Linked DNA regions of Homo sapiens. The protein of the gene in region 1 purifies or fractionates together with the protein of each later gene. This does not show direct contact. Each region holds a gene or a part of one and is shown on either strand. Other genes may lie near its edges.

What was found.
Region 2: the proteins of OR5M8 (region 1) and UNC45B purify together in Homo sapiens (affinity purification with mass spectrometry; one large-scale study listed by BioGRID and IntAct). This does not show direct contact.

Annotation. Positions count from the first base shown.
Region 1 is NC_000011.10:56,489,827-56,492,759, forward strand, and holds OR5M8 (olfactory receptor 5M8), read right to left. Parts: upstream 1,545-2,933; coding exon 609-1,544; downstream 1-608. UniProt on the Homo sapiens protein: Odorant receptor.
Region 2 is NC_000017.11:35,171,727-35,175,547, reverse strand, and holds part of UNC45B (protein unc-45 homolog B), read right to left. Parts: intron 1,307-3,821; coding exon 1,179-1,306; intron 1-1,178. UniProt on the Homo sapiens protein: Acts as a co-chaperone for HSP90 and is required for proper folding of the myosin motor domain. Plays a role in sarcomere formation during muscle cell development. Is necessary for normal early lens development.

The DNA.
Region 1 (2,933 bases):
TCTAACAATCAATTAAGTATTCAACTGAGAAGTGACATATGTGAATTTTAATCTCATCTTCCAGAAATAGCCACATGATCTTACCTAAACCTAAGGGCATGGAGGTACAAAGCCATTCTGTGCACGGAAGACAAAGAACTTAAAATAACTGCTGAACAAGATGAATGACAACTTAAAACATAAAAGCTTTTGTGAACAAAATTGTACGTATTTGAATTTTAGAAAATAAAGTTTTTAGACTGGGCGCGGTGTTTCATGCGTGTAATCCCAGCACTTTGGGAGGCCGAGCCTGGCCAGCATGGTGAAACCCTGTCTCTACTAAAATACAAAAAATGAGTCGGGCATGGTGGTGTGCGCTTGTGTTCCCAGCTACTCGGGAGGCTGAGGCAGGAGAATTGCTTGAACCCGGGAGGCAAAGGTTGCAGTGAGCCGAGATCACACCACTGCACTCCAGCCTAAGACAGAGAGAAACTCCATCTCAAAATATAATAATAAAATAAAAATAAATAAAGTTTTGAAAACTGCAATGTTCTCCATTGATGCACTATATTTCTCAGCTAAAGAAAAAAGTCTAGGAAGGGCTTTAGAAACCAAAAGAATACTGATTTTTAAGAAAAGTATATCTTCATTGACAGCTCTTTGATTAATGCTTCTTTTACATTTTTATTTCTAAGGCTATAAATTATAAGGTTCAGCATAGGGATTACTGTGGTATAAAATACAGCTACCATTTTACCCTGTTCAACAGATTCCTTTGAGGGGGGTCTGAGATACATGAAGAAAAGGGTTGCATAGAATATAGTGACAGCTGTCAGATGGGAGCCACAGGTAGAAAAAGCTTTTTGCCTGCCCTCTGTAGAGCGAATCTTTAAAATAGCAGGGAAAATGTAAAGGTAGGAAATACATATGATGAAGAGAGAAAAAGAAAGGTTCCAGCCAGCCACAATAAACATTGACAACTCCTTGTTGTAGGTGTCAGAACAAGCCAGCTTAATCAGTGGTGGGTCCGCACAGTAGAAGTGATTAATTTCATTGGGGCCACAGAAGGCTAGGTTGTAGGTCCACATGGTCTCCATCAGGCCAGTGAGCGCTCCATACACATAAGGCACCGTGATGAGGAAGGAGCACACACTCTTGGACATTCTGCTGCCATAAAGCAGAGGGTTGCAGATGGCCATGTACCGGTCAAAGGCCATCACAGCCAGGATGTAGATCTCAACATGGACCAAGGCGATAAAAAGGTAACACTGCACAAGACAGGCAGGATAGGAAATGCTTTTCTTCTCTGAAAGGAAAATCTCCAGCATCTTTGGAGTCACATTGGAAGAGAAGCACAGATCCACGAAGGATAAGTGGCTCAGGAAAAAGTACATGGGCATGTGGAGCCAGGCGTTGGCCTGGATGAGGACAATCATGCCAAGGTTCCCTGCCACCGTGACCATGTAAATGGCCAGAAACAGCGTGAAGAGGAGAATTTGTAATTCCCGGCGACTGGTCAGTCCCAGGAGAATGAACTCAGTCACCAACGTGCAGTTTCTTCTCATAATTTCCTTCGGTGGAAGAAAGGAACTTTACATATATATTGGATTACAATACAATAGCAACATGATTATTACTATTACAGTAATGATCTTTTACCAAAAACGTCCCCTCTTTTTGGCAGTTTTCCTCATTCTATTTCTACTGAACTTTGTTTCAGGTAAACTAAATTAGGGATATTCAAAGCAGCTCTCTACCTTTTATGATACTGCCCTTTATTTTTCTTGTTTTCTTTCCATTTTCTTTCTTTTCACTCCCTTCAAATTCAGCTTCTGTTTTTCTATTCTTCTTCTCTCGTTTCTCCTCCCCTTATTCTGCCTCTCCTTTTATTTGAGAAATGTACTTTATAGGTGGACTTGCCCCAAAACATAACATTCAGAACTAAGCAATTTCTTTTTTCCCGATTATAATACTGGGCAGAGAATGCGCGTAAAGAGAGAAAAGGACAAGTATCAAAAAGCAATATTTGCCCGAGGATCTTGTTCTTTGTGAATAGTTTTCACCAATCCGATCCCTTCCTGGAGAAGCCTGAGCAAACAGGTTGGGCTCATTTGTTGCTTTCTTATTCCTCCAGGCTCAGTGCAATAGGGATTCTCCAGGCAGGGCATGATTTTTTTCCCCTTATTTTGAAAAGTGTCTGCATATTTGCCTTTTGAGGGTTGCACAGCTATTAAATTCTCTAGCCAGTAACACTCTCTTTGAATTTTTTGGAGGAAATTTTCCATTATGTGGAGTTAAGACTCATGGAAATTCTCTCCTCTTGATCTTCCACTTCTAGTTTCCACTGAGAGACCAGATTCTCTGTTTAGAAAGGAGTAGTCAGGGCAGGTGTGGTGGCAGGCGCCTGTAGTCCCAGCTACTCAGGAGGCTGAGGCAGGAGAATGGCGTGAACCCGGGAGGCGGAGCTTGCAGTGAGCCAAGACGGTGCCACTGCACTCCAGCCTGGACGACAGAGCCAGATGCTGTCTCAAAAAAAAAAAAAAAAAAAAAAAAAAAAAAAAAAAACCATAAAGGAGTAGGCAGGGGTCAGATGTTAGTCCCTGCTTGTCTTAAGTAAGTTCATGACTCAAGGTTGCAAAATATTTTTTCATCTAATTGATTACAGTGAAGTTTGAAGATCAGGCTGATGTTGCAAAGAAACACTGATTCTGTGTGGTTTGATCTGCTCAGCCTCCACACCTGCCTAGGCTGCTATCTGTTCTCTGAGCCTGGTCTTTTAACCGCACATTGATTTAGGAGCCCTAACATCCTTTCAGAATGTTCCGGTTTTGCTTAGCATAACCAGAGCTGTGTTCTGTTACTTACAACAACAACAAAAACTGTTAACACTGATATTAATGAAATGTACCTTCTATTTTTCTATATAAAAATCATCTATATTCACAAGAACAACT
Region 2 (3,821 bases), on another chromosome or scaffold:
TCAGTGTCTTTGCAGATGCTATTCTCTCTGCCTGGAACCTTCCCTCTCCTGCATTTAGGTGGCTCCTTTGCTTCCTTCAGAGCTTGAGTTGTCACATCCCCCAGGAGGCCTTACCAGCTGCCCACCCACCTCCCCTCCAGTCTGGCTGGTTGGGGAACACTGCTTGTGCTCCAATCAGCCCTTTATGCTTCCCACATCATGGCATCCATTGCATCGGACTGTAGCTGTGATCTTGCCTGCCTCCCTGGCCAGGCTGCACACAGACTGTGCCTTTAATCTCTGAGAACAAGGTAACAAGAAGGAACAGTGGCCTCCTTTCTCCTGATACAAACTTCCACCTGTGATGACCTGCCCAACATACCACTTCTCTTCCTTCCTTTCCTTCTTTCCCTCTTTCTTTCCTTCTCCTTCCTTCCTTCCTTTCCTTTCCCTTTCTTTCTTTTCTTTTTTCTTTCTTTCTCTTTCTTTCTTTCTTTCTTTCTTTCTTCTTTCCTTTCTTTCTTTCCTTCTTTCCTCTCTCTCCTTCCTTCCCTCCTTTCTTTCTTCCCTCCTTCCTTCCCTCCCTCCTTTCTTCCTCTTTCTTTCTCTTTCTTTTTCTTTCTTTCTTTTTCTTTCTTTCTCCTTCCTCCCTTCTTCTTTTCCCTTCCCTCCTTCCTTTTTTCCTTCCGCCATCCCTTCCTTTCTCTCTCTCTCTCTCTTTCTCTCTTTCTTTATTTCTCTTTTGTATAGAGACAGGATCTTGCTCTGTTACCCAGGCTGGAGTGCAGTAGCACCATCATCATTCACTGCAGCCCTGAATTCCTGGGCTTAAGTGATCCTCCTGCCTCAGCCTCCCAAGTAGCTGGCAGTACAGGTGCACACCACCGTGCCAGGCTAATTTAAAATTTTTTTGTACAGATGGGGTCTCAATATGTTTCCCAAGCTAGTCTTGAATTCCTGGGCTCAAGCAATCCTCCCACCTGGGCCTCCCAAAGCCCTGGGATTACAGGCATGAGCCACCACCCCTGGTCCCATGTCACTTTTCAAAGCTGATCCCCTCAGACCTTTCTCCAGGCTTTCCCAATAGTTTATCTCCTCATTTAGGCCCCCACCATTTCTATCTCCCTGCCCAGTGTGCTGCACTCCAGGACCCTCGGCCCCCAGCCCTAGTTCCAAGCCTTGGCCCACTGCAGCCCCACCTGGCCAGCAGCTCCTTGGTCTGGTCAGTGAGGATGGCACTATCTGCTTTCACCATGCAAGCCAGGGCAGAGATGACACCCGCCTTCAGAAGCCGCTTCACCCGCATGTCTATAAAGTCCTTCTTGTCCTGAGGAGATGAAAAGATGGCAATGTGGGAGGGTCCTGGGTGCCAGGCCAATCGGTATTGGAACCAAAGATGGTGCATTTCTGAATTCTTGGGGTTGGTTGAATAATGGCCTCCAAAGATGTCCATGGCCTGGCCAGGCACAGTGGCTCATGCCTGTAATCCCAGCACTTTGGGAGGCTGAGGCGGGCGGACCACGAGGTTAGGAGATCAAGACCATCCTGGCTAACACGGTAAAACCCTGTCTCTACTGAAAATACAAAAAATGAGCCAGGCGTGGTGGCGGGCACCTGTAGTCCCAGCTGCTCAGGAGGCTGAGGCAGGAGAATGGCATGAACCCGGGGGCAGAGCTTGCAGTGAGCCGAGATCGCACCACTGCACTCCAGCCTGGGCGACACAGCGAGACTCTGTATAAAAAAAAAAAAAAAAATCCATGGCCTAATCTCTGGAACCTGTGAACGTGGGACCTTACATGGCAAAAGGGATTTTGCAGACACGATTAAGTTAAGGATTTTGAGATGAGGGGGTAAGCCTAGATTTCTGTGTGGGCCCAATATAATCACCAGGATCTTTATAAGAGGGAGGCAGGAAGATCAGAGTTAGTACTAGGAGATGTAACAATGGAATGGAAGTGAGGTCAGAGTGGTTCAAGGTCACCAGCCAAAGCATGTAGGTGGCCTCTAGAAGCTGAAAAAGGCAACAAAATGATTCTCCCTTAGAGCCTCCCAAAGAAACCAGCCCTGCTAACACCTTGACTTTAGCCGAGTGAGACTCATTTTAGGACTCTTGACCTCCAGAACTATAAGATTTTTAAAACCGGGCCAGGCGTGGTGGCTCCCGCCTGTAATTCCAGCACTTTGGGAGGCTGAGGTGGGTGGACCACTTGAGCCCAGGAGTTCGAGACCAGCCTGGGCAACATGGCGAAACCCCGTCTCTACTAAAAATACAAAAATTAGCTGGGCATGGTGGAGCGTGTCTATAATCCCAGCTACTCAGGAGGCTGAAGCAGGAGAATTGCTTGAGCCCAAGAGGCGGAGGTTGCAGTGAGCCAAGATTGCACCACTGCACTCCGCCTGGGCGACAGAGGGAGACTCAGTCTCAAAAAAAAAAAAAAAAAAAGTATAAAAATTGCGTTTTAGGCCACAGTGCGTGTGGCAATGTGTTCTAGAAACAATAGGAAACTAAGACACTTCTCCAGATTCCCTCTTCCCAAGCAACTGCCAAGGGGTATACAGCACGCCTTGCTGTCGTGTGTGATTGTCTCTCCTCTCTTCTTCCTTGCCTTACCTAATCCCAAGACAGAGCCTGAGGAGCTGATACCGTAGAAAACCAGTCCCAAAGATTCTCTCATTCACAGAGGAATGAAATAAAAGACGGATAATCCAAAAGACTAAATGATGCGTATATTGTTTTTCTTGGAGAAGGCTGAGGTGGGAGTGGAGGTAGAGAGAGGGTATAGGCAGGAAAGGACACAGTGGATGAAGCCGCCATAACAATGGATTGGGTTTGCTGGAAACCCAAAGTCAACCCAGGGTTAAAGAGTCCCTACAGATAATCCTCAGAGTGAGGAGTGGTGGGGAAGGGGCTGACAACCCTGGGCAAGCCCTGGAAGCCACACTGGAACTTCACAGCCACAGCACATGCTCTGCACCCTTGCCTGGATGAAACATCATGCAGCTTTCAAAAATGATTCAGAGGCCAGGTGTGGTGGCTCATGCCTGGATTCCCAACGCTTTAGGAGGCCGAGGTGGGTGGGTCACTTGAGGTCAGGAGTTTGAGACCAGCCTGACCAATATGGTGAAACCCTGTTTCTACTGAAAACACAAAATTAGCCGGGCATGGTGGTGCATGCCTGGAATTCCAGCTACTTGAGAGACTGAGGCAGGAGAATCACTTGAACCTGGGAGGCAGAGGTTGCATTGAGCCGAGATCTCACCACTGCACTCCAGCCTGGGTGACAGAGCAAGACTCTGTCTCAAAAAATAAATAAATAAAATAAAAATGATTCAGAGAATGAGATGGCAATGTGAAAAACATATTTTTCCAAAATTGGGCACAAAATGATAAATATATTCTAATTATAACTGTGAAAGGAAAAAAGATACATAGAAAAAAAGCCTCTGGTAGGTAACATAACATCAAAATGCCAACAGCAGTCATGTGGAGATGACGTAATCATGAGTGGTTATTTTCTTTTCCCCACATTTTAACTCGTTTTGCAGCATGATTATATTACTTTGATCATTAAAAAAATCTAAATGATTTTATTGGCTGGCAATATCTTGCATATATTCTTAAACAAATCACACACAAATCATATCTTCATGTGCAGGGAATTGTTGGAGAGGGTTCCAGGGGATCTGTGACTTCTGGGCTAATGCTGACCATGCCTCTCCTCTCATGATTCCTACTTAGCACCCATGTCACAAAATCCAGAAATCTGAGAAAATCAAATTGTTATCTGTTGGAGACATGAAATAAAACTGTCTTTTATCCATAAAATCAACAACACAAATTG